7 separate regions of the Homo sapiens genome follow, and all the other regions are linked to region 4. The links come from fine-mapping of genetic effects on gene expression. A gene starts in region 4. Each other region holds a variant in brackets. All regions are shown on one strand. Distances are from middle to middle.

Region 1 (4,000 bases), 350 kb after region 4:
GGCCAAATGAGGGTTTGAAACCAGGACTGTCTTATTTCAAAACTTGTGCTCTTTCTAATACATGCTACTGTTTCCTGATGAGATTGCCACATTGCACAATGTGGCACCAAGGGGCACCATTCACATGGTCATCAGTATAAATGGCACCTGGGAATTGAACAGCATAGTGGCTAGGTATCCTAAGATCAGAGGCACGATCTCCATTAAATAGCAGCTATTGCAGAGGAGAAATGACGAGGACCTAACCTGGAGGGGTTGGAAAGGAAGGGACAACTTCGAGAGACATTTAAGAGATAGATTTGACAGAATTGGCAGTTGACTGGGTGTGGAGTTAAGAAATAAGGGAGTTGAGGCTGTCTCTGAAGTTTCTAGCTTAGGTGCCTGGGAGAATAGTAATGCCCTTATTGGTTAGGAAGGCAAAGGGGAAGGGGCTGTTGGGCAGAAAACATCACGGAATGCCACTTCCCCTGCTTACCCATTTGACCTGGGTTAGGAGATGAACTTGATTTAAGGGTACCACCTGGACCTGTGCTTTGGTTTCTTGCTTTTCTACTTAAGGTCAAACTCAGAAACAATCTGGGCCATTAAAAGTTCTTGTGCTTTTAGCTGTAGTTGACTAACCTGGTCCTGTCCTCAGGATTGACTAAATCCCACCCCCAGTGATGGGACTTGCCTGCTTAGCCCAGCTGAACATGTCCCCGGGGCCCTGCTTCCCCTAGACCTCCCTTGCAGAAGCTGCCCACAAGGTCTGCCCAACCTTTCCCTTATCCCTCCATGTTCCCAGACACCAGACACTAAAGCTCTACATTTCTTGGCACTGGACCCTGTGTGGTATAAGGCATGGTCGGCCCCTTGCAGCCATGGTAATCTCACAGTTTCCCAGACCCTCTCTTCCTCTCATCCTCCAACAAAACTACCTGAGCTCTAGGACCTCCACCTGTCTGGGGCCATGCCCAACTCAGCCCCCACTCAGAGCCTGTCCTTGCTCCCTGGCCCAGGCGATGAACAGGCTGTAGACCCATAAAGCTTCCTGCAGCTTGCAGTGAATGGATGCCTGTTTGTAAACCAGGACATTGGACATGGCACGTCTGCTGCAGAAAGTGAGGGGCGCCCTTCCACGTAGCTCTCAAGCCATTATCCGTGAAGCATTCCTTCATCTCAGGGTAACATCTGCCCGTATCCACTTGTGGCTCTGACCTGACCTTCAACTATAGCTATTTGGACCCTTACATACCATTGTATACACAAAGATTTGCACACATGTATGCACACATGCACACACACACACACACACACACACACACTTTTAAAAATGTTTTTCATGTGAAAGCCCAGTGATGATAAAGCAAGCTGTCAGGATTTAAAAAAAAAATACAATAATGCAATTCACAGAGGACAGTCAGTGGTTAGCACAGCTTCTACTCATGTTTTTACACCTTCTGGAGGTGTGACAGGGTGTGCTTGGTGTTAGAGTTGGCCACAGTGAGACCCCAAGGCATTAAGATGTCTTCAATCAACTGTCCTCAAAACAGCGTTGACCAAACAGCTTTTAGGTACCAAGCACTCTCTAGATGCAGTGTGAACTTCAAAAATGAGGCAGACATATCTTTGCTTCCTGGAAACACACAGCCCCCTGTAGAGAGAGACCACATGTGTGAACAAACAATGCAACATGGGGTCCATCACAAAGCCACCCACACTTGGAGTAGTGGAAGACCTGGTCCTGGTCTCTGCCCCACCACTTGGCTTTACCAGGTCCCATTTGCTCTGTTCTTCACCCTCATTCCCTGGTTTGGGACAATGGGAGTCGATTCCTGTTGGGAGCAGGGACCCTCAGGATATCCCTTCCTGGGATATTTATAAGAAGAGGATCAAGGTCCCCATGAGAACCTGTTCCACCCGAGGGACTGTTCCTTTCTGTCATTGTATGAAGGTTACAACCAGCCAGGCAGTGTGGCTGGGGCGGGGTTGGGGAGGCA[T/C]AATGGGAGCCTAAGTGAGCCAGGTGTGCATTCTTAGGTAGGGCTCAAGATGGGTGGGCAGCGGAAACTGGGTGAACTTTAATCCCTTCCATTCCTGAAATGTGTTCGTTTTATGAAATATCTCTCTCCGCAAAATGTCTCCACCACTTGACTTTGGATTTCTAAGAAATGTTTCTCTGAATAGATGTAGAGTAGCATTTCCCAGATTGCGTTCTGAAGCACGCCACTGCCAGGCACTCATGGATTTTGGAGGAGAAAAAAAAACCCATAGTCCTGCTTTGTTCCATGGTCAGTGTGTTTGGGAAGTTCAGGGTTAAACAAAATTAAACCAGCTGCTTCACTGCTGGACTCTTTTCAGCCTTTAATATGCTAGTGATTATTACGAATCTTGAAAAGGCAGATATAATATGCATTGTTTTCCAGCCTTATCTGAGCATGGAACCTTGTCTTCATGAAATTTCTGTTGGTGTCACCTGGAAACCTAATGCCCTGAGGAACACACTTTGATAAATACTGGCACATAAGATGTTCATTGTTTGTAAACTAACGGTGGTCAGTTATTTCCCATATTCTTTTAGACAATAGTCTTCAATAGCAGCAGGAAAGTCTTAAGTTTAGATAAAAAGGAGAATTTCCTAACTGTAAGGATTCTTAGATACTAGAACCTTAGAGTGTCGTGGGAAATGGCAGTAAAAGAATGTGCCCCTCCCCCTTCCTTGTCCTTCCACAGGCTATCCCATGAGTCATTATAAATAGAATGAATTATCAAGGAAGCTTCTGGAATCTTTTTATCTTAAGAGGCCTTTGAAAGTTGCATAGAATTGTGGGACAAGAAGGTAGGAATAAAAAGGCAGGAAGACAGACTGGCTGACTTCTGGGTAGACTGTCTCTAAGTGTCTGTAATTAACTCATTCATTCTTACTCCGCCCAGAACATGCATTTGAAGGGAATACCTTTCTAACTTGTGGAACTGAAGAGGCAGAAAGCCAGAAGCTACCCCAGATTTCACGGTGGTCTTTCAGTAGCTGTCGTATTTGCCAAATAGGAGGCTAAGCTTTACATGCATCTTACTTGTTTCTTGAAATAACCTATAAGGTTGCTAATATTGTTTCTTTTTAAAAAACAAGGATCTGAAGCCCAGAAGGTTACAGACCTTGCCGAAAGTCAAACAGCCAGTATGGTAAGGAACCTGGATTTGAACACCAAAGCCTGAATCCACTATATCACCCCAGCTGCCACTGTGAATCTGTGGACATCCAGAGCCTCAGGGCTTCCTTAAAATGAGCCTTCATCCATCGGGCTCTGTGTGTGGGGAGAGGATGGAGTTGGGCTGATGTGTCTGCCCACAATGATAAGGAAGCCAGGGAAGAGGACATTTTCCAGCCCCTGCCAACCATGCCCAGCCAGGCCCCTTGGTTTGCCCACAACAGTCTGGCTCTGCCCCAGTCCCTGCACCCTTGCCAAATGCATCTTCTTCCATTAGCCATCTGCCCCCTTGTGCCTACCGATAGCCCACAGCACATGGGCAGCTGCCCTGTTAGAGAGATAGGAGATAATATCAGTGTAGGAATCAATACATTCTCTGGCATGTCCTTTTTCCCCTAATGGGAATGTGGCAGGATCCAAAATACACTTAAACCTTATCCAAATCCACTCTGTCAGGCATTGGTGGCTTCAAAGGAAGCTTGGTACCTCCAGTTTGCACGTGTAAGCTAATGAAGCTGGGCTCTGGGTAGGTGAGCTGAGGCCTGTAGCCTGAGGCCTTGGCAGTGTCTGGAGCTGTGTGGCAAGGATGCAAGGGTGGCGCCAGGGGCCTACAGCAGCTAAGTCTTCAGAAGAGGAGACTGCCTGGAGGAAAGCAATCTTTCTTCCTGGCCAGAAGGAAAGCCTAAGGCACTTGCCATCTGTCATGTCAGGCTGAGTGGCTGACGGGCTAGTCCTAGGGTCTGGAAGTCCTGTGTACCCCCAGGGTGTGGATCTGTGTGCAAGGCACTTGGAATGAACATGAAATGAATGTGATT
Region 2 (4,000 bases), 110 kb after region 4:
AGCCTCTGTGAAGTAAGAAAGGAACACGTTCATGCTGAGTCTTGGGTAAGGTCAGGAAGGCTGCTTGGGGTGGGCACGGTGAGTCTGCAGGGTCGGTGGATGATCTTGACAACCTTCTCCTTAGTTAAGCCTTTCACACAGTCCATTTTCTCCAATCAGCTGAGTGTTTGAAGGCCTGCAAGGCCCCCTGCTAGAGAAGATCAGGGAATCAGGCACTTGGAGCTGTCAGGGAGAAATATCTAAATCATTTGAACAGGTAATAATAGGATAGTGTAAGCTTGTTTAGTGCAAGGAAACTCGTTGTAACAGAAACCCCCTCCCAGCTCATCAACTTGCAGCTAAGGGATTTTCTGTGAGGTAGACACAAAGAAGACTTCCCCAGAGCCCTGGCAGTGAGGCAAGGGAGGGTCTGGGCCATCAGGAGCCAGAAAGAGTGAAGGTCCTGGCATCCTCAGGGGCTTATGAAAGACTATGGGAGTTGGGTTAGTGTGCTTTCACCTTAGACTGGGAGTTCCAAGATGGAGTCTAGTCTTATCTCAAGCATGTACTAACTATGTAAACTTGCCAAGTCACAGTTCTTTGGGCCTTATTTTCTTCCTTTCTAAAGTGAAGGCACTTAATTGCATGATTTTAGTCAGTTTTGACATACTGTCATCCGTAGAGACTTCTCAGCTGCAGCGGCAGTACAAGGGGGTCTTTGTAATGATTAACATGGGTATGGGGTATAGCTTGTGCTTGTCTTTATATATGTCATTTATTATTATTATTATTGTTTTAATTTTTGTTTTTTTGAGACAGAGTCTCACTCTGTCGCCCAAGCTGGAGTCCGGTGGTGCAATCTCAGCTCATTGCAACCTCCACCTCCTGGGTTCAAGCGATTCTCCTGCCTCAGCCTCCCGAGTAGCTGTGACTACAGGCCCCCGCCACCACACCCAGTTAATTTTTGTATTTTTAGTAGAGACGGAGTTTTGCCATGTTGGCCAGGCTGATCTCAAACTCCTGACCTCAGGTGATCCACCCACCTCGGCCTCCCAAAGTGCTGGGATTACAGGCGTGAAGCACCGCCCCCGGCCTTATTATTATTTTTAACTGTGACAAATGTGCAACCACCACCAACACTGGGATGTGGTACATTTAATTTTCACAACAACCCCATGAACTAGGTACTATTACTACCCCCATTTTTCAGACACAGACAGGAGGCTTAGAGAGGGTAAGTGACTTGCCCCAGGTCACACTGCCTTTAGGGGGCAGAAGTGAGACACTTATCTGGGTAGTTTGACTTCAAAGCCATGCCTTTAACCACTGGGCAGACTTTTCTCATGTTTTTGAGCAAGACTCACAGCAAGAAATACTTTTCCAAGCCTAACCCTGATTGTCCACAGATATATGCATATCAAATGGAAATACTTTGTACTGCATGCCCTGATAGTTCTTATTTTCTTTGCTTTTGGCTTTCTCTTTTGGGAGTGTCATTATTGTATTAGTTTCCTGTGGCTGTGGTAACAAATGACCGGAAGCCA[A/G]GTGGCTTAAAACAGCAGACATTTATTCTTTCACAATTCTGGAGGCCAGAAGTCTGCAATCAAGTTGTCAGCAGGGCTGTGCTCCCGCCAAAGGCCCTAGGGAGAATGCGTTCTGTGCCTCTTGCAGCATCTGGTGGCTTTAGCTGGTCTTTGCTGCAGTCTCTGCCTCTGTGGTCACGCTGCCCCCTCCTCTTCTCTGTGTGTCTGTCCTACGGATACATGTGGTTTACTTAGGGCCCCCCTGATAACCCAGTGTGCTCCTCCTCTCAGGATCCTTTGACTTAATCACATCTTTTGCCATGCAAGGTAACATCCAGAGGTTCTGGGAGTTAGGTCATGTGGGTCGCCTTTTAACCCACTACATTTATGGACTTGTGAATTTTTACAGATTCAGTGTATTTCAGTCAGTTCTCCTAACTATTCTTTTTGCATCTCAAATTGTCCCATCTTTGGCCTGTGGGAACCCCTTGGAGCCAGCCCCTGTACTCTTTTAAATTTTATTTTATTTTTCAGACAGGGTCTTGCTCTGTTGCCCAGGCTGGAGTGCAGTGGTGTGATCATAGCTCACTGCACCCTCATTCTCCTGGGCTCAGGTGATCCTCCCCGCTCAGCCTCCAAGTAGCTGGGGCTACACTCAGCTAATTTTTTATTTTTATTTTTTTGTAGAGTATGGGGTCTTGTTATGTTTGCCAGGCTGGTCTTGGCCTCCTGGGCTCAAGTGATCCTCCCGCCTTGGACTCCCAAAGTACTGGGATTACAGGTGTGAACCACCGCACCCGGCCCCCTGTACTCTTTAGGTGTGACCCCATCGGTCTGTGAACAAGCCCATGCTCTCTGACACAAGATGTCACAGGCTTGTGTGTTCCTGACCCCCAACCAGGAATTCCTCCAAGTCACCCTGATTTCTTTCAGTAGGAAATGACATTTCTGTTATTTTCCATTCTCTTCTATTTCATTAAAGAAAAACACTGATTACAATCTACTAAATTGATTTCACGGACCTACTTATGGGTTGTGACCCATAGTTTGAAAATCACTGTCCTGGGCTATTTTGTCTTTCTTTACTTTCTTCATAAATTTAGGAAATTCCTTCCCATCAGAAAGTGAGGTACCCTCAAAGGCAGGGTCACGTGTTCATCCACTGGCTCCTCCATGGTGGCAGGATGGGGTCTGCACACATGGGGCCTGCACCATGCAGCCTGCGTCCCATCCAGGGGCCCTCAGAGCTCCTGCTGCCCTCCGTGGCACCCTGCTTCTCTCTGGGCCCTCCCCGTTCCTCCTCCTCCTCCTCTTCCCCCTTACTCTTCTTCCTCCCCCTTCCCTCTTCCTCCTCCCTCTCCCTCTTCCTCCTCCCCTTTCCGCCCTGCCTCTCTCCATCACTGCCTGGACTTCATTTTGCCATTCTAAGAGGCTAATGTGAAAATTGCTCACAGATGGCATAAACAATATGGAAAAGAGCCTCTCTCTTCATTAGAGTAACACAAGATAGTGTTTTTAAGTGATTAAACTGTTATAGCAATAATTATGTTGAAATCTAAACATCTCATCACACTACTTTAACCTCTCACCAAGGGCTCTTGAGGTCCCCTTGGGGTTTGGCAGGGGCCACCCCAATAGAGAGCTCAAGAGCGGACTGTCTAGGCCTTGCTGGACCTTCCCCATGGGGCCCCATGGGGCAGAAATATCTGAGTAGTGTTGGGACCTCCATTGGTGCCCCCTCCCTGTAACCAGATGTAGAGGTCCTGGCCCCAAAGCTAGGCTCTAGCTGAATTTTTCTTTGGTGGCTATCCCATCCCCTTTGGCCTCCTCCTTGTCCCATAGCCACTCTCTACTCTGAGTAGCTGTAGGTGCTCCTAGAGGGCTGTCCTGCTTGCCCCTCCTTGCTGGCCACCCCTTGTTCTCTCAGCACCCTGCCCAGAGTCAGCTGGCACCGAGGGAAGAAAGTGGGTGAAGTCCTCTGCAAGACACAATTGCAAGACAGACACTTCATCTCGTACCCTGCCGCGGAGTCTGGGCATTCTCTAGAGCACCTTGGGAATTGCTCTCAACCTGTTCTTCCTCTTCCTCCATTAGCGTAGATCCTCATTTCTTTCTTCCAGGGCTGTGAAACAGCTCCCACCTCACCTTCTGCCCTTCAGCTTCTCTCCCTGCCTGCTGCTCCAGGAAAGGAAAGTATAGAAAGCTACACAGAAATAAAGACACCTTCATGTATTTGATTATCTTGGGGGGATGGGGTGCAGATTTAAGAGATTTAAGAGAGACCTAGAGAAGATGAAACGCACCTGGTATGAAAATTATAGACTAGCAATCATGCGCCTCATTTTAAATAAACATGTAAAAATAAGACTTAAGGCCGGGCGCGGTGGCTCACGCCTGTAATCTGAGCACTTTGGGAGGCTAAGGTAGGTGGATCACTTGAGGCCAGGAGTTAGAGGCCAACATGGTAAAACCCCGTCTCTACTAAAACTACAAAAATT
Region 3 (4,000 bases), 230 kb after region 4:
TGTTTCTCTGAGACAACATGTTTAGACATCTCTTATTTCAACATATACCTATCAGAGCAAAATTCTGCATTGCAATACGGGGCACTTTGGAGTCCCAAGATCTAGGGGTGAGTGTGTGTCTCGGACTTTCTGTCCTCAGGTGACGATGCTCAGTGTCAGTATGCATATGCAGTTTCTAGCATTTGTGATAATTTACGCTGATCTGGTACAATCACACATCTGTCTAATATCCAGAGGGCGGGCCTAAACCAGAGGTGACTTTTGTGGCTCCAAACAGAGTCCACTAACAAGATCACACACAGACCAAACCCATTACCCTTGCCCTAGGACTGCACTCCAGCCAGCTGACCTCACATGCCCCAACCTCATCCACCAGGGCAGCCCATCTGGTGGCCAAAGGCTGTGTTTGGGAAACACAGATGGCTGGTTTGCATTACACGGAACAGCTTGGGATGTGGACTACATGGACAATTGGCTGAACTTTTGCAGATTTAATCAGATGTTTGGCATCACATAGGTGTAGATTGACTCTCCTTCCCTTCTGAGCCTACTCTCCACTTCAAGAATTTTAATAAAATGCCTGAGCCTGGCTGTACTCTACAATCGACAACTGTTATACCTGAGCATAGCATGGGGTTGTAGTTAGGCTGCTGGGAAAGTCATATGCCGGCCATGCACCTGCTGTTGATGTGAAAACCAGCAGAAGCTAGACAATCACAGCCAGCCTTTTGCGGTGGCAGTAGCTCCCAGCCCCTCCTTCCCTCACCCCCGCATGAGTGGCAGAGCCTTCAGCTAGAGAAAGGATAGGGACTGAAGCATCCCCACAGGAACCTGCTGACCCCACATTACCCAGAGCTGTCCCGTGGCCCTGTCCCAGCTGGGACTCTGAGCATCATGCCTCATCATGCACTCCACCCATATAGGGCCCCAGCTGGCAGAGGGGAGGTGAACTGCCAGGAAGTGATCCAGCATTGCCTGGTAACTTGGGAGGAACTATCTCTGGCATCTGCCTGGGATCCTGGTCTCCCTGGTTTGGTCCAGAGGAGTTTACCCCAGTCTCTGTGCTCCCATGGAGCTGAGTGACTAGTGAGGAATGGGAGCATTGTCCCTTTGCTTCTCTTGCCCATCAGTCAATCCACCTCCCGTGAGTGCCTCAGTTAGTGTACCTGTAAAGTACAATGGCCTCTCCCACCCTTCTCCTGGCCATGTATCTGCATAATGCTTTATTATGGGCCCTCTCCTGGGTCATTCTCACCTTACCATAGAGACGAGGCATGTTTATTTGGTTTTATTTGACGCAAGATCTGAGACTGCACTGAGTGTCCAACCCTACCTCACATTTCTGGGGTCTTCCGGCTGGACCAGGGACCTAAGGGAGGAGGGGCCTCAGTAAAGCTGTGGATAGTGTGTGTGAGGGGCAAGTTTCTGGCACCTGCTCCAGAACCCCACTGCTGTGCTGTCTCTCTCGTTCGTGTAATTGCTAGCACTGAGAATTTACCAGGTGTCAGGGGTCTTTCTGAGCCCCTGCATGCATTAACTCATTTACCACTCACAATATCCTCCACTTTACAATTGAGGAATTAGAGACACAGAGAAAGAAGTTAAGAAACTGGCCTCAGTTTACACAGCTGAGAAGTGGCAGAACAGGCCGTGTGCTTTCTTTTTTTTTTTTTTTTTTTTTTTGAGACGGAGTCTCACTGTCACCCAGGCTGGAGTGCAGCGGTGCGACCTTGACTTACTGCAACCTCCACCTCCCAGGTTCAAGCGATTCTCCTGCCTCAGCCTCCCAAGTAGCTGGGACTACAGGCACGCACCACCACGCCCAGCTAATTTTTGTATTTTTTAGTAGAGATGGGGTTTCAACATTTTAGCCAGGATGGTCTAGATCTCTTGACCTC[G/T]TGATCCGCCCGCCTCAGCCTCCCAAAGTGCTGGGATTACAGGCATGAGCCACCATGCCTGGCCCTGGCAATGTGCTCTTAACCACACTGTGCAATGCTGCCTTTCTGCAAAAATAGCAAATGTGTAGATTTCCTTCCTCAGGCGGCCTTCTATTCATGTGAGTGCCCCACAGGGTATCTTAACTTTTCAGGTTAAATATAAAATGCCTTCTGTTTTCATTCATGGATATCAGTATACATGCACGCATACATGCACAGGCAAGCACAGACACACTCACATCAACCAATTGTCATTACCCTGCTCTTCATTCATTCATTCCGACCAGCAAAGCCCAGTGGGCCCCTGTGGGGTAAGATGCAGTCTCTGCCCTGGGGGAATTCTCTGGCTAAGAGGAGACATAGATCTGTGAATATGCAATGGCTCTAGGGTAGCTGCAGCAATATGGGGACACAGAGGAACAAATATGATCTGGGAATTTGGAGACTGGGCTCACATCTCAGGAATTAAGGAAAGGTTTGGTCAAATTTACAAAAGAAAAACAACCCCATAGTCCGGGCATGGTGGCTCATGCCTGTAATCCCAGCATTTTGAGAGGCTGAGGTTGGTGGATCACCTGAGGCCAGGAGTTCAAGACCAGCCTGGCCAACATGGGGAAACCCCGTCTCTACTAAAAATACAAAAGTTAGCCGGGCATGTTGGTGTGTGCCTTTAGTCCCAGTCACTTGGGAGGCTGAGGCATGAGAATCGCTTGAACCTGGGAGGTGGAGGTTGCAGTGAGCCGAGTTTGCGCCAGTGTACTCCAGTCTGGGCCACAGAGCAAGACTCCGTTTCAAAAAAAAAAAAAAAAAAGTGGGCAAAGGACATGGACACTTCAAAAGAAGATATACATGCAGCCAACAAGCATATGAAAAAAAAAGCTCAATATCAGTGATCTTTAGAGAAATGTAAATCAAAACCACGAGATACCATCTCACACGTTTCAGAATGGCTATTATTATTATTATTATTATTATTTTTTTTTGAGATGGAGTCTTGCTCTTTCGCCCAGGCCGGACTGCAGTGGTGCTAAGAATGGCTATTATTAAAAAGTCAAAAAATAGCAGATGCTGTCGAGGTTGCAGAGAAAAGGGAACACTTATATACCGTTAGTGGGAGTGTAAATTAGTTCAACCATTGTGGAAAGCAGTATGGCATTTCCACAAAGAGCTAAAAGCAGAATTACCATTTTACTCAACAATCCCATTACTGGGTATATACCCAGAGAAATAGAAATCATTCTACCATAAAGACACATGCATGTGAATGTTCATTGCAGCACTATTCACTACAGCAAAGACATGGGATCAACCTAAATGCCCATCAATGACAGATTAGATGAAGAAAATGTGGTACATATACACCATGGAATACTGTGCAGCCATAAAAAGAATGAGATTGGCTGGGCATGGTGGCTCACACCTATAATCCCAGCACTTTGGGAGGCCAAGGCAGGTGGATCATGAGGTCAGGAGTTCGAGACCAGCCTGGCCAACATGGTGAAACCCCGTCTGTACTGAAAATACAAAAATTGTCAGGTGTGGTGGCGGGTGCCTGTAATCCCAGCTACTCGGGAGGCTGAGGTAGGAGAATTGCTTGAACCCAGGAGGCGGAGGCTGCAGTGAGCAGAGATGACGCCACTGCACTCCAGCCTGGGTGACAGAGCAAGACTCTGTCTCAGAGAAAAAAAAAAAAAAAAGAATGAGATTATGTCTTTTGCAGGAACATGGATGGAACTGGAGGCCATTATGCTCAGCAAACAAATGCAGGAACAGAAAATCAAATACTATATGTTCTTATTTTTAAGTGGGAGCTAAATGATGAGAAGTTATGAACACAAAGAAGGAAATATCAGACACAGGGGTCTACTTGAGGGTGGAAGGTAGGAGAAGGGAGAGGAGTGGAAAAGATAACTCTTGGGTACTGGGCTTAATACCTGGGTGATGAAGTAATCTGCACAACAAATCCCTGTTATGTGAGTTTACTTATGTAACGAGCCTTCATGTGTACCTCCAAACCTAGAATAAAAGTTTTTTTTAAAAAAGAAAAGTTTTTGTATAATAGA
Region 4 (4,000 bases):
ACAGGGATGCCTCTCCCTCCTCCCAGCCCCGTACACTTTCTGCTAGGCTTATGCTGCTGTTCCGTCCATTTTGCACAAGAGAGGGGGTTCCAGAGTGGGGGAATAGAGTTGGAATTAGAAATTAGTTTTGTGTCACTGGCTTACAGGTGCTCTTAAACCTTAACAGGTTTAACATCCTCTGTAAAATGGGACTAGTGTCACCTCAACACCTACCTTGCAAAGTTGATTATTGGGAATCACACTTGTGTAAGCGGTATAGTCTTGGCAAACAGTAGGTGCTAAATAATGTCTGGCTGGAGGAATGGAGCCCTGTTCGCATATGGCATTCATCCAGCCAGTGTGTGGAGCTGGGGGAGGGATAGGCACGACTCCTGAAGCAGGAGGCCCAGTACGCGCCCAGGCTAGCCAGCCAGCCCTCCCCGGGGAATGCAACGTCCAGAACAGTCTATAGTCCCGATAGTATGCCTCATGCGTGAGACCTGACCAAGGACGTCTGTGAACAAACCCTTCACAGAGAGCTTAATGAGATTGTGGGAGTGCTGGTGGTTGGGTGTGGGGATACAGGCCATTGAAGGTGAGAGGGCCGGTGTGATCAGTTTGGTGGTCTGCCCAAGACAGAGACTCTGCGGGTTGGATAAGAGGGAGCTAATAGGTTTGAGGGGGTCACGTGTCCCTTGCCCTCCCTCCTATTCCCCCAGGACTCCCTCTTCACCCAGCCTCCTCCTAAGGGCAACTCTGTTGTATTAGGATGAACCACACGGTGTACTGAAATGAACCGCGCGTCAGAAAGCGGGGTTGCCTCCTGGGTCCTGCCACTTGCTCCCCGTGTGTTCTTGGCCTGGTCCCTTCACCTCTCCTAGCCTCAGGATCTTCATGCGTAACATGAGATCCTCCCAAGATGTTGGTATGTATACAACAGTGCTCTGGAATGACTCCATGCAAGCTGTTGCTCTTCAGTCTCCTGAACAAGGTGCTCTTGTCTCGTCCCATGAAACCTCCACCTCTCCATCTTCCGCACCACTGAGGCCGCAGTCTCTTCTAACGGGGCACGCTCGTCCCCCGCGCTGTTTCCCGAATGCCACCAGGGGGCGCCCCTTGCTCGCTGAAGCCGCCGGGCTAATAACTCCTCGGGGCCGGGGCGGGCTGCCCCTTTGCGCAGGGCGGTGGAGTGTGCGGGCTGCGCCGGGTTCCCCACCTGAGGTCCGTACCTCGCAGAGCCCGCTTGGCCGCGCGCCCCTAGCCTCTGCCGGGCGCCGCTCCCCAGCCGGGCGCCTCTCGCTCGGCCCCGGGCCCCCGGGCAGCCGCAAGTTTGCCCCCGGCCGCGCGGACCCGCGCCCGCCCTGCCCGCAGCAGCCCCCGCCGTTCCCGCCGCCCCCGCCGCCCCCGCGCCTGGGCTCCCGGGCGACGCTCCGAGGGGCGCTGGGGGGCGCGTGCAGCTGCCCGCGGGGCTCCGGCCCGGCCCCGAAGGGGCGCCCCCCCGGCCGGCCGTGCGCGGGGCCGCAGCAGTTCCCCAGCTGCCCGCCGGGCGGCGCCCCGCGCCTCGCTGCGCTCCTCCCGCGCTCCCCGCGCCGGGCTCGCTCGCAGCCGGACACAGACTGCCTTCAGCTGCGGGCGGATCGGGCTGGAGCCGCCACGGCTGCTGCGGAAGAGGAAAAACGGCCAACAGCAGCCCCGCGGCCGGCCCGGCAGCGCCCGGCCCCCGGCTCAGCCCCCGGAGTGCGGAGCCGACCAGGTAAGGGCAGCGGCCCCCCGCGGCGCCCCCGGCCCGCTCCCTGCGCTGCCCCCGCGCCCCCGAGTCCCCTCCGCGCTGGCCCTTCCCGCACCCCGACTTCTGACGTCTCCGCCGCTCCTGCCCTCGGGGGCCGCGGCCCCGCACCCCTGCCCCGGCCCCCGCCCCCGCGCCCTCCTCCCCGCTCCCGCCTCCCGCCAGCCCGGTCCCTGGCACTTCGGTCCCTGCGTCTCCAGATTCGCCGCCGAACCCCCCACCGCTCTGCTCCCGTAGTTCCTCCAGTCTTCACCCCGGTCCGTCTCCCTCCCTCCGCATCCCTTCCCCGGGCTCGCGGTCCTCCCGCTCTGGTCCTCCCCCTCCCCGTGCAACTCCCAGCCCTGCCTCTGTCCCCTGCAGGGATGACAGCCCCTTCCCAGCCTGGCGCGTCTCCCCTACACCTCGTCACCCTCCGCTTCTCCCAGCGCCTCTGTTCCCCGGCTGCAGCCCCCCATCCCGGCTCAGCCTGGCATCCCACCAAGCCCCCTCCCCCTTTCCTCACTGCCATCTGCCTCGACTGCCCCCTGCCCCTGCACTGGACTCGGGCCACCACCACACCCCCCCACCCTGCACACCGCCTTGCTTGGGGGAACCAGCGTCCTATCAGAAATGATCCTCTTTCCCGGGGAGAATGGGGCTCCCACCCATCCCACCCTAGTTCATCCGAGTGGGAAGTGAGGGAGAAACTCTAGAGACCTGCAATGGGCGCGTGATGGGGGAGGGGGCTGGGGCGGAGGGGGAGGGGAGCTGATTTAGATTCTCTTCAGTGAGGACTGGCAGAGCTGTGCGCTCCGACCTGGCTGGGGTGGAGGGCGTGCAGGCGACAGCTGGGACAGGGGGTTCAAGGCACTGAGAGCACCTGTGTCTCTTTCCCTGGCTCCCTTGAGCTGAGCAAAGTGAGGGGAGGAGTTGGAGCCTGGGGAGAGTTGGCTGAGGGCCTTGGGGTGGTGGAGGAGGCGGCCGAGGGGGCTGGGCCCCGGGCGCCTCTGGCCCGTCTGCCTGGCAGTGGTGGGGCAATGCGGGCCGAGCCACTCCCGGGCTGGACCTTGGGCTGCGTGGCTCTTGGCATCTGTACTTGATGCTGCCATCTTCCTCTTGGTGCTGTTGTCTGGTGATGCCACGCGGTGCCACCTCCCTGCCTCCCTCCAGTGGCTCTCCTGGGCATGTCTCCCAAGGGTCTGGGTTGTCTGGGAAGAGGAGGGGAGCTCTGAGCACAGCTGGGCCCTTTTGCCAGGCAGTGGGCAGCTGTCAAGACCAGGCCAAGAGGTCTGAGGGCTGGTCAGGAGGACTGAGCCCTGCCAGGAACAAAGAACTACCTTCACTTTCACTCCCTATGGGTCACCTGGTTGGTAGTGACACTTCTAGGAGCACCGGGAAACTGCGGGCGTGGTATCTCCGGGGAGAGAGGCCGCCTGGGTTGGTAGTGGGCATCTGAGAGACAAATCCGGTCCTGCCTGACTCCCTGACTGTCTGTGCTCGCGTGGTCAGGGGCGAGGGGCTTGTCGAGGTCCACTGTGTTCCGGTCCCACCAGGGATGGCAGCCCCTGGAATTCCACTGGGCGTCATCATGCTGGCTTTATTTGCTGAAGCTGCAGCTCAGGCTTCATCATTAATCAGGTTTATTATTTTTCTCACTGGCCAGATGTGTTCCTCAAGGTCACGACCCTTCGGAGAGTTAATCTAATATGCACACATTACAGTGTCTGGGTTTGTTTAATTTTCCATATTTTGTTCATTCCTTGTGGCCCGGGCTTGCCCACCAGCCTCCCGCCTGCCTCACCAGCTCCACCCCTCTGTCCTCCTCTGGACCTGCCACCTGAAACCCAGAGGCAGCACTGGTCCCTCCGGGTGGGGAAGAGGTGGATGCTCGGGAGGGGAGGTTGAGAGGGGATCTTGGTTTTCTGTGTTTTTCCCATCCCCCTACCTGGGCATCTTGATCGGTGGCTGCTGTCTTCCCCAGCAATGAAAATTCTTCCGAGAGCCTGGGTCGGCTTCGTGGTCTGATTTCCACTTTGGTTTTCCCTTAGGATGGAGAGGGAACTTTAGTACCGGGAGAGAGGCAGAGACTCTAGGAGAAAGTCCCAGCTGCAGGGAGTCAGGGCATCCAGGAGAGAGGAGCTCAGCTGCTTCTGAGGTGGTTCTCAGCCATCCAGAGATGGAAGGGAGGACAGGGGGACCGGCCCTGGGTTGGGGGAGAGACTGCTCAGAAGGCAAGAGAAGCAGCGAGGCGGAAGC
Region 5 (4,000 bases), 220 kb after region 4:
CATTAACGTTCTTTTCTTTCAGAATGAAGAACTACCTTTAGCATTTTTTTGTAGGAGAGGTCTGATGATTGATGAAATCTCTCAGCTTTTGTTTGTCTGGGAAAGTTTTTATTTCTCCTTTATGCTTGAAGGATATTTTCACTGAATATATTATTCTAGGGTAAAAGTTTTTTTCCTTCAGTACTTTAAATATGTCATGCCATTCTCCCCTAACCTGTAAGGTTTCCACTGAAAAGTCTGCTGCCAGACATATTGGAGCTCAGTTGTATATTATTTGTTTCTGTTCTCTTGCTGCTTTTAGGATCCTTTCTTTATTTCTGACTTTTGGGAGTTTGATTACTAAATGTCTTGAGGTAGTCTGGTTCAGGTTAAATTTGCTTTGTGTTCTATAACCTTCTTGTACTTGGATATTGATATCTTTCTCTAGGTTTGGGAAGTTCTCTGATATTATCCCTTTGAATAAACTTTCTACCCCTGTCTATTTCTCTACCTCATCTTTAAGGCCAATAACTCAGGTTTGCCCTTTTGAAGCTACTTTCTAGATCTTGTAGGCATGTTTCATTCTTTTTTCTCCTCTGTCTGTGTATTTTCAAATAGCCTGTCTTCAGGCTCACTAATTCCTCCTTCTGGTTGATCAATTCTGCTGTTAAGAGACTCTGATGCATTCCTCAGTATATCAATTGCATTTTTCAAATGCAAAAAGAACCTAGGCCTGGACTCAGGGACCCCAAGAAGTATATAATTCCTGCTTGATTCTTTTTAATTATTTCAATCCCTTTGTTAAATTTATCTGATAGAATTCTGAAATCCTTTTCTCTATTATCTTGAATTTCTTTGAGTTTCCTCAACACAGCTATTTTGAATTCTCGTTTTGAAAGGTCACATATCTGTTTCTCCAGGATTGGTCCCTCGTGCCTTATTTAGTTCCTTTGCTGAGGTCATGTTTTCCTGGCTGGTCTTGATGCTTGTAGATGTTTGTCAATGTTGGGCATTGAGCAGTTAGGTGTTTATCGTAGTCTTCACAATTTGGACTTCGCAATCTGTGTTATTCTTCTTGGGAAGACTTTCCGGGTATTCAAAGGGACTTGGGCCCCAAGCCTAGTAATGCTGTGGCTCTTGCAGACTCACAGAGTTACCACCTTAGTGGTCTTGGGTAAGATCCAGAGGAATTATCTGGATTACTAGGCAGAGACTCTTGTTCTCTTCCCTTAGTTTCTCTCAAACAAATGGCATATTTCTCTCTCTGTGCTTAGCCACCTGGAGCTGGGGGTGGGGTGATGGAAGCACCCCTATGGCCACCACCACTCAAATTGCCCTGGGTCATGCCTGAAGCCAACACAGCACTGGGTCTCACCCAAGGCCCACTGTAACCAGTACCTGGTTACCACCTATGTTTGATCAAGGCCCTAGGGCTCTACAATCAGCAGGTAGCAAAGCCAGCCAGGTTTGCATCCTTTCTTTCAAGGCGACAAGTTCCCCCAGGCCCAAAGTGGGTCTATAGATACTGTCTGGGAGCCAGGGATTGGAGTGAAAAAAAAAGCCTTAGAAATCTACCTGGTGTTCTATTCTTCTGTGGCTAAGCTGGCACAAAGTCCTTCCCACTCTTCCCTCTCCTTTCCACAGGCAGAGGAGCCTTTCCTCATGGCCTCCACCACCACTGGCCCATGGGGAGTTCTGCCAGACCACTGCTAATGTTCCCTTAAGGCGCAAGGACATCTCAGTCAGCTTGTGGTGAATACTGCCAGGTCTGGGACACAATCCTAGGGCCAGTTAGCTCCCTTCTGTCCCAGGGCAGGTCCAGAAATTCTGTCCAAGAGCCTAGGCCTGGACTCAGGGATCCCAAGAGCCTGTTTGGTGCTCTATCCTCCTGTGGCCGAGCTAGTAACTGAAGCCAGTACATCTTAGAGTCTCACCCAAGGCCCATGGTCTGTATTCCCTGGGTATCACTGTTGGTTATTCAGGGCCCAAGGGCTCTTTAGTCAGCAGGTGATGAGTCCTGCCAGGACTGGGTCCTTCCCTTCAAGGTAGCAGGTTCCCTTCTGGGCCACGGTGTGTCTAGAAATATCTGGGAGCCAGGGCCGGGAATGGGGACCTCATGACTCTGCCCAGAGTCCTATCCTACTGTGGCTGAGCTGGTAACTAAGATGCAAGACAAAGTTGTCTTTACTCTTCTCTCTTCTGTCCTCAAGCAGAAGGAAGGAGTCACTTTTGTTGCTGCCAGCTGTGCTGAGTGGGGTTGGGGGACCAAGCACTCCCTTGGTCACTTCGACTGGTGTCTACCTAGGTC[A/ACGCACTG]CTCCAGTCCACTGGCTCTAAGCCCAGCACAGCATCAGAACTAGCCTAAGACATTTTACACTGTTTTGGTAATCATAATTTACTGGTAGTGGTATTAGTATTGTTATTGTTATTCTGAGGCTGTTGGATGTATAATGTAGGATAAAGCAAATGAATAATTAGAATAATTATGGTTCATTCTAATTCTAATTCTATTATTTCTGTGTTCTTGAGGACCAGAGTTCTCAGTTCAAAAGAATGGAAATACATAGTTGTATAGAAGAGGTAAGGTTGTAGATCTGGACTTGAATTTGAATTTTTAATTACATATATTCTCTCTCTCTCTCTCTCTCTCCCCTCACCCTGCCCACCTCTGTTCACTGAAAAAGGCCTAGAAAGTATGACCAAGAAATACAATGAGCCTCTTATCCCCAGATGTGGTTGTGATATACCATTTCCCATTGAAAGAAGGCAGGGCATCTTGGAGAAATGGCTGATCCCAGGTCTGGGCAGAAGATGTACAATATAAGCCTGGAATAGGTCATGTAAAAGGACTTAGAAGCCAACGTAAGAGGATTCCCACTAGCCGAAGATGACAACTTGAGCTTTAATAAGGATAGTCGTTGCAATGGATTGGAACCGATGTTTAGACATGGTCTAGTATATTTATACTCATGAGTTCATAATGCCATTTTAAAAATTATCTAATTGGTTATCTCCTGAGGATGGCCGGGAACCACTTTATCTTGAAAACTGAGTAAATACAGGAAATGAGCACTTTTCTTGTCACTACTATTTGAATGTATTATTTGAATAACCAAATAATAAATGAGGGGCAGCATCTCTGCATAAAATTATTCTAGCTGATAAATGAAATCTAAATGATTTATGGATCCAAAGTCTAGACATTAGACATTGAGCACCAATAGCTGCTAATACTAAAAACAGAGCAAAAAGCAGGCATTGTGTGTTCCTAATGAAGTGCATAGCTTTGGCTAAAAGAATAGAACTTGAGCCTGATCAAGCCTCAGAATCCAGCTGTCAATTTCAAGAATACAGAGACAGTTCAACGTGTTGAACTGCACGGAAGTATGCAGGCCACAGAATCCAGACTGGGAGAAATTCCATTGGGCAAACGAACAAATAAATTGTAAGGAAAGGAAAGAGATGAAGGAGGAATCCGTAAATTAAAAGAGAGTTAGAAGACATAAAGTTTCAAAAACTAGGCAAGACTAGTGTCTAGGAATGCACTTGGGTGATAAATCATAAAAGAAAAAAAACCACAAGGAAGTGATTACTCTAAAAGTCAGGGAAGTTGTTACTTTTGGAGAGGAGGTAGAGGCTACGGTTGGGATGAGGACATGGGGGGCTTTCTGGGTGGTTGGCAAATTTCTATATCTTAACCTGCATAGTTATTATGAGGTGTTCACCTTATAATGATTCAGTAAACCATTTATATTGTGTGTGTGGTTTTCTGTATCTATGTTTTATTTTACAATAAACAGGTAAAAAAATCAAAACCAGAAAAAGTGATGAAAACATAAGCGGAATTTAAAGCCTTGGGAATGGATAATTTCATTTGGGAGAGAGGATAGATAGGGCAGACAGCCCAGGACTGAGCCTTGGGGGCACTCCAATGTTTGAACGTCTGGTAAGAGGAGATTGAGAGGGAGCCGCCACGGAGGCAAGAAAACAAAGTGGTAGCTATAAAGGAACAGATGAATGAGATATCAG
Region 6 (4,000 bases), 87 kb after region 4:
ACCCCTGGCTTAGTCAACGGCTGCTCCCAGAGCTGGGAACATGACAGCTTCATGCCAGGGCAGCCCCAGGTAGCTTTGTTCTTGGGCCCCTGGATGCCAGAGGCAGCTCCACTCACCTTGCGGGGCCGCTCCCTCTCCACCTGGGTTCCAATCTGGTTCTGCTCCTTACCTGCTGGGTGACGGGGCAAGTGCCTTCCCACCATGATGAGGAGATGATGTTTCCCGCAGAGGGTTCTGGGGAGGATGCAGTGAGATCATGTATGCAAAGCACCCCTCTTGGGGCTGCACACGGTGGGAGCTGGGCAGTTGCCAGTTCCCTCTCCTTCCTCTCCCTCCTTGGCTGACTACCCAACAGGTGAAGATCTGACCTGTTCTCTGACCGAGCCCCGGGCGCCCCCAGCTGAGCCCCGTGGCAGGCAGCAGAGTCTCAGTGTCACATAAAGGCAATTTCTCTAGCTGATTCTTTTTAAAGAACAAAAAGCAAATTGCCTCTCAGTCTTACTTGGCTGCCTCAGCCGTGCGCTTTGCCAGAGTGTTTGCATTCAGGGATCCGTGGGGGTCCTGAGGTGGTGGGCCATGCGTGCTGCCTGTTCAGTGCAGCCCCCCGCTTTGTCTGATTTCCTAATACAGTGCAGCATTCGAATTTTTCTCTAAGCATCTGAAAGCGAAAGGGAAATTGTGACTGTGGATGAGTCCCTTTTAGCGACCTCTGTGAGATCTCCCCAAAGTTGTTCTCCAGCCCAATTAGAAACCTGCCTGACTTTCAGGAGCGGGAGTGCCTGCCGTTGAAGACTCCTGTTCCGAGCCCTAATTACTGCTTGATGGAATGAATAAAGACGTCATGTTTTCTGCATTTTACTTAGAGAGTTGCTGATGCGGTGAATGTTGGATGAAACGTCTCTTTCCTCAGAGAGATTAAAAACTAAGTGCCTCAGCGACAGAGCCAAGCGGCTGTTTTAACAACAGACTTCCCCTCCTGCGCTCCCTTGGCCTCGCAGTTGGAGCTGGTCTGGGCCCCTTCTGTTCTTTCCACTCTTCTGGAATCAAGGTGGAAGATGCCTTGACCATCGAATTTGACTGATTAAAAAAGAGACACAAGCATCTGTTGAGCCCTTGCTGTGCATCCGACTTTTTCCATCCATTCTCTCATTTCTTTCTCACAGCAGCGTTATGAAACGGCTTGCTGTGCCCCTTGTGCAGATGAGGAAACTGAGGCTCACAGAGTTAGTGTCTTGCCCAAGGTCATCTGGATAGCAGGTAGCAGAACGGTGGTTTGAATTCAACCTCCAGTGCAGAGTTTGTGGTCTTTCTCCATCGGCTCCAGGGACATTTCCTGGCCTGCGTGGTGGAACCTGCCCACCCCCTGAGGAGCCAACCAGTTCTTTTCCTTGACAGAGAATGGCACGGTATAGTGGTTAACTCCCACCATATGACAAATCTCCCCAAAACTTAGTGGCTCAAGACAATGAACTTGACTATTATTGATGGCTCTGTGTTTGGCTAGATGGCTCCTTTGGTCTTGGCCAGGTTGTCTGGGGCTGCAGGAACTGGGATGGCCTCCCTCAGTATCAGCTGTGGCAAGGACCACATGGCCTCTTATCTTCCAAGAGGCTCGCCCAGGCCTGACCTCTTCCTCACACATTCTCCATGTCCATGTAGATGTAGATATCCATTCTTCCTCTTTGAAAGTAACTGAGCTG[G/C]CTTGGACCCTGTCTATCTTGCAGAAGAGGGAAGCCTGATGCCTAAGTACTTTTTACATCCTCTGTTATTTCATGTCTGTTAATGTCCGGTTGGCCAAAGGAAGTCATATGTCCAAGTCCAGACTCAAGGGATGGATAATGGACTCCTTCTCTTGATGGGAGGGGCCAAGAAGCCCCATTTGAAGGGGTGTGCCTGCAGGAACGAGGAAGGCTTTGTGGTCATTCTGCGTTACTGCAAAGGGTAACACCCACTCTTCAAAGGCCATTTCACAGCTCCTGGTCCTGTAAACTAAGGGTGTGGAGAGGGGGCTTACTGAGCTTCCACATCTGGACGGGATATCACGAGGCTGTGCCAGACAGATGCCTCATTTTGTTTGTTTGATGCGTGTGTTGCTGTTTTTTAAACACGCAGAGAATGTGAAAACACAACTTCCCTTTTGAATTGATCCTTGTTCTCACAACTAGTCATTACCTTTCATGATTGTTATTAATATTTCCCTGGACCAGCTGCTGCAGATGAACCTGGAGTGCATGTTTGGAGTTGGTGGTGGGGAAGGTCCCTGTTCTGGGCTTGAGGCTCCAGGGATGGAGGAGGGGACATTGGTGCCCCATGCCTGCCCTCTTCTCAGGCTCACAGCATGCCCTGGTTTCTCCACCTGGACTTAACAGAGTTTCCGCCGTTATCTGGGAGATGAAGACCAGAGGGTTTTAGGCCCTTTGAAGGAAGGAACGGTTCAGAAGAATGAGTCAGTGATGGAGTCTCTAGATGTCTTGCCAGCTCCATCTCTGCTACTGTATTCTCAGCCCCCTAGCCTCCCTCTTGTGCTTCCAGGGATATAGTGCCCCGTTTTCAGTGCAGAAAGTACTTTGATCAGAGGTTTGTGAAAACCAGTTTCAAGGCTGCCAGCTTTGGGTATTCCTGGGGTGTGGGCCTCAGTTCCAGGTTGCCCTGAAACTCTCCTTTCAGCAGGGAGAGAAAAGGCAGTAGGAGCTACAAACACCTTGGGCCTTGTCCCCAAGCTCAGCCTTCTTGGGTGACTCACCCGAGCAAGGAGCAAGTCAAACTCAGCACAAGGGAACCCCTGCCCCAGAGCCCGTGACATAAAGGTGAAAGAAAGGCTTTTGGTGTCTCTTGCAGCCAGAGTATGTTTGAACATTAGAGGCTGGTTTTAGGTTTGACGCTTTCTCATGCTGGCATGAGCACCTAGCATGGGGCCTGGCGCATCAGAAAAGCTCTAGAAGCGACCTTGCCATCCGCCCACTCTGCAGGTGGCCGAAGCCCTTGGGTGGAAGGTTCCAGGGAGAGTAGTGCTGGCAGCCCTGATTCAGGTGTGTTTGGGGAAAGGGAAAGGTGAGACCTTCAATGTGGGAGCCCCTAAGGCCTGCAGAAAAATGAGACTCTTAAAGCTGCTCCTCCCACAGCGGGAGGGTACCTCCACCCACCAGGCTTCCGGCTTCTCAGCGTGGCTGATTCCTGGTGCACTGTCAGCCTTTATGGGTCCCATTAGGGCAAGAGAGTAAGAGGTTTTATGGGAGTTTTTCCCCCCTCTGTCTTAAAAAAAAAGAAAACTAGAGTTTTCCTGCGAATTAAACAAATGTCAAATCAGCTTTGGCTGCCTGAATGGCAGCCTTTCAGAGGCAGTGCCTGAGGCTAACTCAGGGAAATGGGGTTCCTGCTCTCTGGGCCTCCCAGCAAAGCCCACCTGGTTTTTGTTCTGCTCTTTGAACAGAGGGCTGAGGAGGGATGCTGGTCTTTGTTTTCCTCCCACAGTCAGGACTGGAGGAGATCCTAGCCAGGAGTGCAGAGGCAGGGGTCTGGGGACCCTCTCCCCACCAGGAAGATCTTCAGGGGTTCTGGGAGTCCCTGGCATTACAGGCAGCATCACAAATATGCATGGAAAGTGAAATTGGAAGGGGTAAATCTGTAGCTTTGTTCTGATTCTCAAAGAGGTCAGTGACCTTCAAAAAGATTAAGAACTCATGAGAGGCTGGGCATGGTGGCTCATGCCTGTAATCCTAGCACTTTGGGAGGCTGAGGCAGGCAAATCACTTGAGGCCAGGAGTTTGAGACCAGCCTGGGCAACATACTGAGATCCCATCCCTACAAAAAATACAAAAAGGTGTGGTGGCATGCGCCTGTAGTTCCAGCTATTCAGGAGGCTGAGTGGGAGGATCACTTGAGCCTGGGGAGATGGAAGCTGTAGTGAGCCGGATCGTGCCACTGCACTCTAGCCTGGTGACAGAGTGAGACCTTGTCACAAACAAACAAGCAAAACTCATGAGAACTATTACAGCACCCA
Region 7 (4,000 bases), 52 kb after region 4:
TAGTGAAGGAGCAGGTAAGTGTATTTGGGAGGCTAACTTAGTCTCAGATGGATGGCAGGGAGCTGGGGAGGGCTTCCTGGAGGAGGTGATGCCTGAGCTGAGCCTAGAAGGATGTAAAGGAACCAACCAGAGGAAGAAGGGGAGTTAGGGTATTGTGAGGCTGGTGGGGGCTGGGGAAGAGCTTGCACACACAGAAGTAAGTGAGGATTTGTGTTTGGGTCATGGCAAGCAGGCTGGAGCCAGGGTACAAGGGGAGAGAAGAAGCTGGAGACGTGACAGTGATCAGTTCATGGGGGGCCTTGTATACCAGGCTAAGGGTGCCAGGAAATGGCTGGGGAGATTTACACAAAAGGGAACAGGTTGAGATCCTCTGGTGGTGGTAGGGCAGTGCTAGTGAGAAATGTGTGCAGCTTGGACTAATTTGAGAGACTTTCTAGAAGGTAGAACCCACAGGACTTAGTGATGATTGGGCATGGGGGGTATCGTGTGGAAAAGGGAGGAGCCAGGTCAGGGGATCAGAATGGGCAGCCAGCCCTCTTCTGCAGGGTCCAGCTGCCTGGTGGCAGTGGGGGACCCTATTTTGGCCTTCTGCGGAAGCATGACGTCCAGTGGGCTGTGGATGTATGTGACTGCCGAGATGTCAGTCATGCAGGCTGGCACCCAGCTTGCCCAGCTTCCAGAACGGGGATGGTGAAGTGTGTCTTTCCACTTCACTGTCTCCCTGGGTAAAACCCGGGAATCAGCTCCCTTCTTTTGTCAGTTGCAGAGGAAGTGGGCTCTTTCTCTATTAGACATACTCGCAGTGTCTAGTATCAGCCTCTTTGTCCATGTGGGATAGGGATTGCTTGGCCGGTAAGCACTGTGTTTGGGTGTACATCTCCTAGGATACTAGCATGTGGCCACTTGGAAGGCGGCTGCCTAGCAGCCCTCAGCCTAGCTTCAGGAGAGGAACTATGGGATCCAGCTTCTCTGGGCTCCAGAGAACAACTTCTGGGGCCTGGAAGAACCCTGTGCCCAGTGACAAGCTTGTAAAAAGAGAGAAACAATCCCTATATTTTTGGTCCCTGGGAAGGAAGTAGGGTGGACAGCAGCCTTAACTTTCTGGAGCAAAATGTGAACTTTTGAGAGCTGAAGACCAAAAGCGGGTTCAGCTTTTGAACTCGTTTTTTTTAAACCAACCTAGGCCAAAGGCTGGGAGAAGGCAGCAGCAGCCAGCCCTGTGTTACAGGTGGGATAGATGGGTGCTTTGCTCACGGTCCAGCTGGTCTCCCCGCAGCTGCTAGACCCCAGGAACTTCTGGAGCTCCCGTCCTTGGAGCCTCCTCTCAGGAAGTTAGATGTGGCACTCAGGGTTAGTTGGCTCTGAATTCCCCTCCACCCTTCCCCAGGTCATTCAGAAGCCTACCTCCTGAGCTACCCAGGGCTCTGGAATCTCCACCTGCTGTTTCACTGCTGTTTGCACCAGTTCTGGCGCCTCCCACACCTGGGGTCGGTTGTGCCTCCACGCCCGCTCTGAGCACAGTCACCGTCTGGGCCCCCTCTCCAGTGACACTCCAGGCCTAAACATTATTTTCCCATCGCGGAGGAGGTGTTCCCGGTGTGTCTCATGAATTTAACACAAGCTGCCGGAGAGCCTTTGAAAGGTTAGGGGGTGGGTAGGGAGGCAGTTTATGTAGTGGGGAAGTTGGGGTGGGGGAGGCAATGTCCCGGAGGAGTGGCTGGTGGCCTGAGGAAGGGCCCGGGCGCGCAGGCGGCGGCTAGCGCTGGAGCCCCAGCCAGCTCCCTCTCCCCACGTGCGCGCTAGGCCTTGGTTACTCTGGCAACTCGCCCCGCTCAGACGGCACCAGGCAGCTGAATCCAGCCCCTTGTTACGGGGGAAAATGCTCTCATTGAAGCGCCGGAGCGCAGCTTCTGCCTTTTATTGCAAGCGGCGCCACCGG[A/C]TTCCATTTGTAAACTTATTAGTGTGCGCTCGCGGGGAGGGGGCTCGGGAATCCGGGCCCGGGCAACCGGCGCCGCATGCTAATCAGGGGGCGCCCGCCCCCGCTTTGCCCGTGGCCCTCCTTTCCCGATTCCCCGACGTTTCGGGAGGAGTGGGGTCGGAGCGCAGGGCTGGGAAGGGTCTTAGGACCCAGGAAGGAGACGGGTGCCTCCCAGAGAGGACCCCATCCCCTCCGAGGTCCGGGCGGCTCCCGGCCTCTCCCTGGGGTGCCGTAGCCCCCCTCGACCCGCCTTCCCGCAGCCGCAGTCGTTCGGGCCTGGAGGTGGCCGGGCATCGGTGCCGACGCCGCGAGGGCAGCGCCCGCGGCGGGAATACTAATGCACCCTAAAGGGCACGGCCGCCGCCGCAGCAGGTAATTAGCTGGACCGCGGCGGAGCGCGCGGAGGTGGCTGCTGGCTGCAAGGACTGCGCCCAGCCTCCGCCTCGCCCCTCGAGGCTCCCGCGTGGGCCGGCGGGCAGTGCGTGGGCCACAGGAAGCGGGCTGACTGGACCCGGCTCAGGACTTCGCACAAGGGCAGCTCTTTGTTTACAGCTCCTCTCCCAGCTCCCCGCTTTCCTTTCGCCCACCGCCTCCCTTTTCCGGCGATCGGCTCCGCCGGCTGCGGGGGGGTGGGGGGGGTGGGGTGTCCTGTGTAGCCGCCCACCTCCTGTCCCGGCCTCGTGCTCCCGCTGGGGACTGTTTGCGGTGAGTCTGTCGCACGCACGTCAGGGCCGAGGCAGTGATGCGGGGCAGCGTGGGAGGACGGGCTGCGGAGCCCGCGTCATCCTGCCTGTGGGGAGCGCTGTGCCTGCTCTCCTGCCAGCGCGCCCAGCTGTCCCGGCCGCCGCCACGCGGGACTGCCTGCCATGTCGCCACCGGCTGCTGACCTCATTAGGCCTCATGTCATGGAGGAGCCGGCGATTAAAGGACTCTAAGAACCAGAGCTAAGTGGCTGCAAAGATACTGACAGCCTCCCTAGAAGCCCACTTTCCAGTGAGCTGCTGCATCCTCTCCTCCTTTAATTAGCAGGAATGCGCTGGACAAGTTGTTACAACTGCAGGGAAAACGATAAAAGATGGCTTTGTATTAGTGTGGCAAATTTTATTAAACCGGGAGAAAGGGTAACTGAAACATGACAGCCGTGTGTGTAGTGCCTCCTGAATTTGTAATAACCCAATCTTGTTCTGAATCATCCCTGTGTTGGCTAAAGGAATATAAAGCGTTTTACAGATCCAATATTGTACGAGGTACAACAGAACACAGCCGAGTGAGGAAGGACGACAGGTAGGAGAAGGGGGCCTCCAGCGCCCGGCAGCGCTCACGGTTAATGAGACCGGAGTAGAAATACAGGGTCTGGCTGCAGGCTTTGCCTCACTAATTACTCCTGCCCCCTGGCTCTTTTCTACATCTCAGTCTTTCCACTTATAATTCAGAGGTAATACCTGGCCACATGAGAAAACTTAACTAATAGCACGTTAGTTGCCAGGGAATGGACAAAACCATCTTTTCCTATAGAGAGTGAAAAGCAAGACAGGAAATCTAGGAGAAAGAGTTGAGACACACGTGGTTATTCTGGGCTTGGGGTGTGACTTTGGTATTAGGCTGGAAGGATGATGCTATGTTTCCTACCCCTTGAGCCGTGTTGAAAGTAGGCGTCATTGTCTCTAGGATAAAAATCTGAGCCAGGCCCACAGAGGTTAAGTTTTATATCCAAGATACAGTAAATGGCAGCCTGGATTTGTGCTTTGCACTTTAAAGCCTGTTCTTTGCCTATTACCCTAGGCCTCAGATTTTATTTGACAAATGAAAAGGCAAAAAATTCTTCATTTGTAGAGGCCGTTTAGTGAACAGTTGTAGCTCTATGAGCTGTAAGGGATTTCCAGAGATCTTCTGATCTAGGCAAGATATTCTTTATTCTGCTTTTCAGAGGAAGTAACTGGAGTCCAGAGACGTTAGGCACCCTGTCCAGGGTCATCCAGCCAGGAAGTGACTGAGAAAGGAGGCCAGACTTCAAATTCCTTC

Which allele goes with the higher level. Alleles are on the strand shown, and positions count from the first base shown. SD is a standard deviation of normalised expression in the study named. Not every link is listed here.
With allele T in place of G in region 3, the expression in sun-exposed skin of the gene that starts at base 1,593 in region 4 is higher (small effect, 0.28 SD a copy in GTEx).
As copies of A replace ACGCACTG in region 5, the expression in skin of the gene that starts at base 1,593 in region 4 goes down (moderate effect, 0.57 SD a copy in TwinsUK).
With allele C in place of A in region 7, the expression in tibial nerve of the gene that starts at base 1,593 in region 4 is lower (small effect, 0.38 SD a copy in GTEx).

The links. PIP is the estimated chance that this variant, and not a neighbour inherited with it, causes the effect. A credible set is the group of variants that fine-mapping cannot tell apart.
Region 1: its variant is the best candidate, but not a certain one, in a credible set for the expression of GRIK4 in whole blood (INTERVAL, PIP 0.81).
Region 2: its variant is the best candidate, but not a certain one, in a credible set for the expression of GRIK4 in lung (TOPMed, PIP 0.72).
Region 3: its variant is the best candidate, but not a certain one, in a credible set for the expression of GRIK4 in sun-exposed skin (GTEx, PIP 0.85).
Region 5: its variant is the best candidate, but not a certain one, in a credible set for the expression of GRIK4 in skin (TwinsUK, PIP 0.69).
Region 6: its variant is the best candidate, but not a certain one, in a credible set for the expression of GRIK4 in thyroid (GTEx, PIP 0.63).
Region 7: its variant is the best candidate, but not a certain one, in a credible set for the expression of GRIK4 in tibial nerve (GTEx, PIP 0.63).

The regions. Positions count from the first base shown.
Region 1 is chr11:120,856,228-120,860,227 of GRCh38, forward strand. The region is part of intron 8 of GRIK4 (glutamate ionotropic receptor kainate type subunit 4); the gene reads left to right. Among named protein-coding and RNA genes, the nearest start is that of TBCEL, 170 kb to the right of the region's middle. The variant T/C (reference allele first, on the strand shown) is at 1,980.
Region 2 is chr11:120,621,128-120,625,127 of GRCh38, forward strand. The region is part of intron 1 of GRIK4 (glutamate ionotropic receptor kainate type subunit 4); the gene reads left to right. Among named protein-coding and RNA genes, the nearest start is that of GRIK4, 110 kb to the left of the region's middle. The variant A/G (reference allele first, on the strand shown) is at 1,524.
Region 3 is chr11:120,739,616-120,743,615 of GRCh38, forward strand. All of the region lies in intron 3 of GRIK4 (glutamate ionotropic receptor kainate type subunit 4), which reads left to right. Among named protein-coding and RNA genes, the nearest start is that of GRIK4, 230 kb to the left of the region's middle. The variant G/T (reference allele first, on the strand shown) is at 1,899.
Region 4 is chr11:120,510,156-120,514,155 of GRCh38, forward strand. It overlaps GRIK4 (glutamate ionotropic receptor kainate type subunit 4), which reads left to right and starts at 1,593. Exons shown (of 21, transcript NM_014619.5): 1 at 1,593-1,732. RefSeq lists silencers at 1,204-1,283, 1,464-1,663.
Region 5 is chr11:120,734,162-120,738,161 of GRCh38, forward strand. All of the region lies in intron 3 of GRIK4 (glutamate ionotropic receptor kainate type subunit 4), which reads left to right. Among named protein-coding and RNA genes, the nearest start is that of GRIK4, 220 kb to the left of the region's middle. The variant A/ACGCACTG (reference allele first, on the strand shown) is at 2,288.
Region 6 is chr11:120,597,095-120,601,094 of GRCh38, forward strand. All of the region lies in intron 1 of GRIK4 (glutamate ionotropic receptor kainate type subunit 4), which reads left to right. Among named protein-coding and RNA genes, the nearest start is that of GRIK4, 87 kb to the left of the region's middle. The variant G/C (reference allele first, on the strand shown) is at 1,701.
Region 7 is chr11:120,562,376-120,566,375 of GRCh38, forward strand. All of the region lies in intron 1 of GRIK4 (glutamate ionotropic receptor kainate type subunit 4), which reads left to right. Among named protein-coding and RNA genes, the nearest start is that of GRIK4, 53 kb to the left of the region's middle. RefSeq lists enhancers at 2,173-2,753, 2,754-3,333 and a silencer at 2,353-2,622. The variant A/C (reference allele first, on the strand shown) is at 1,940.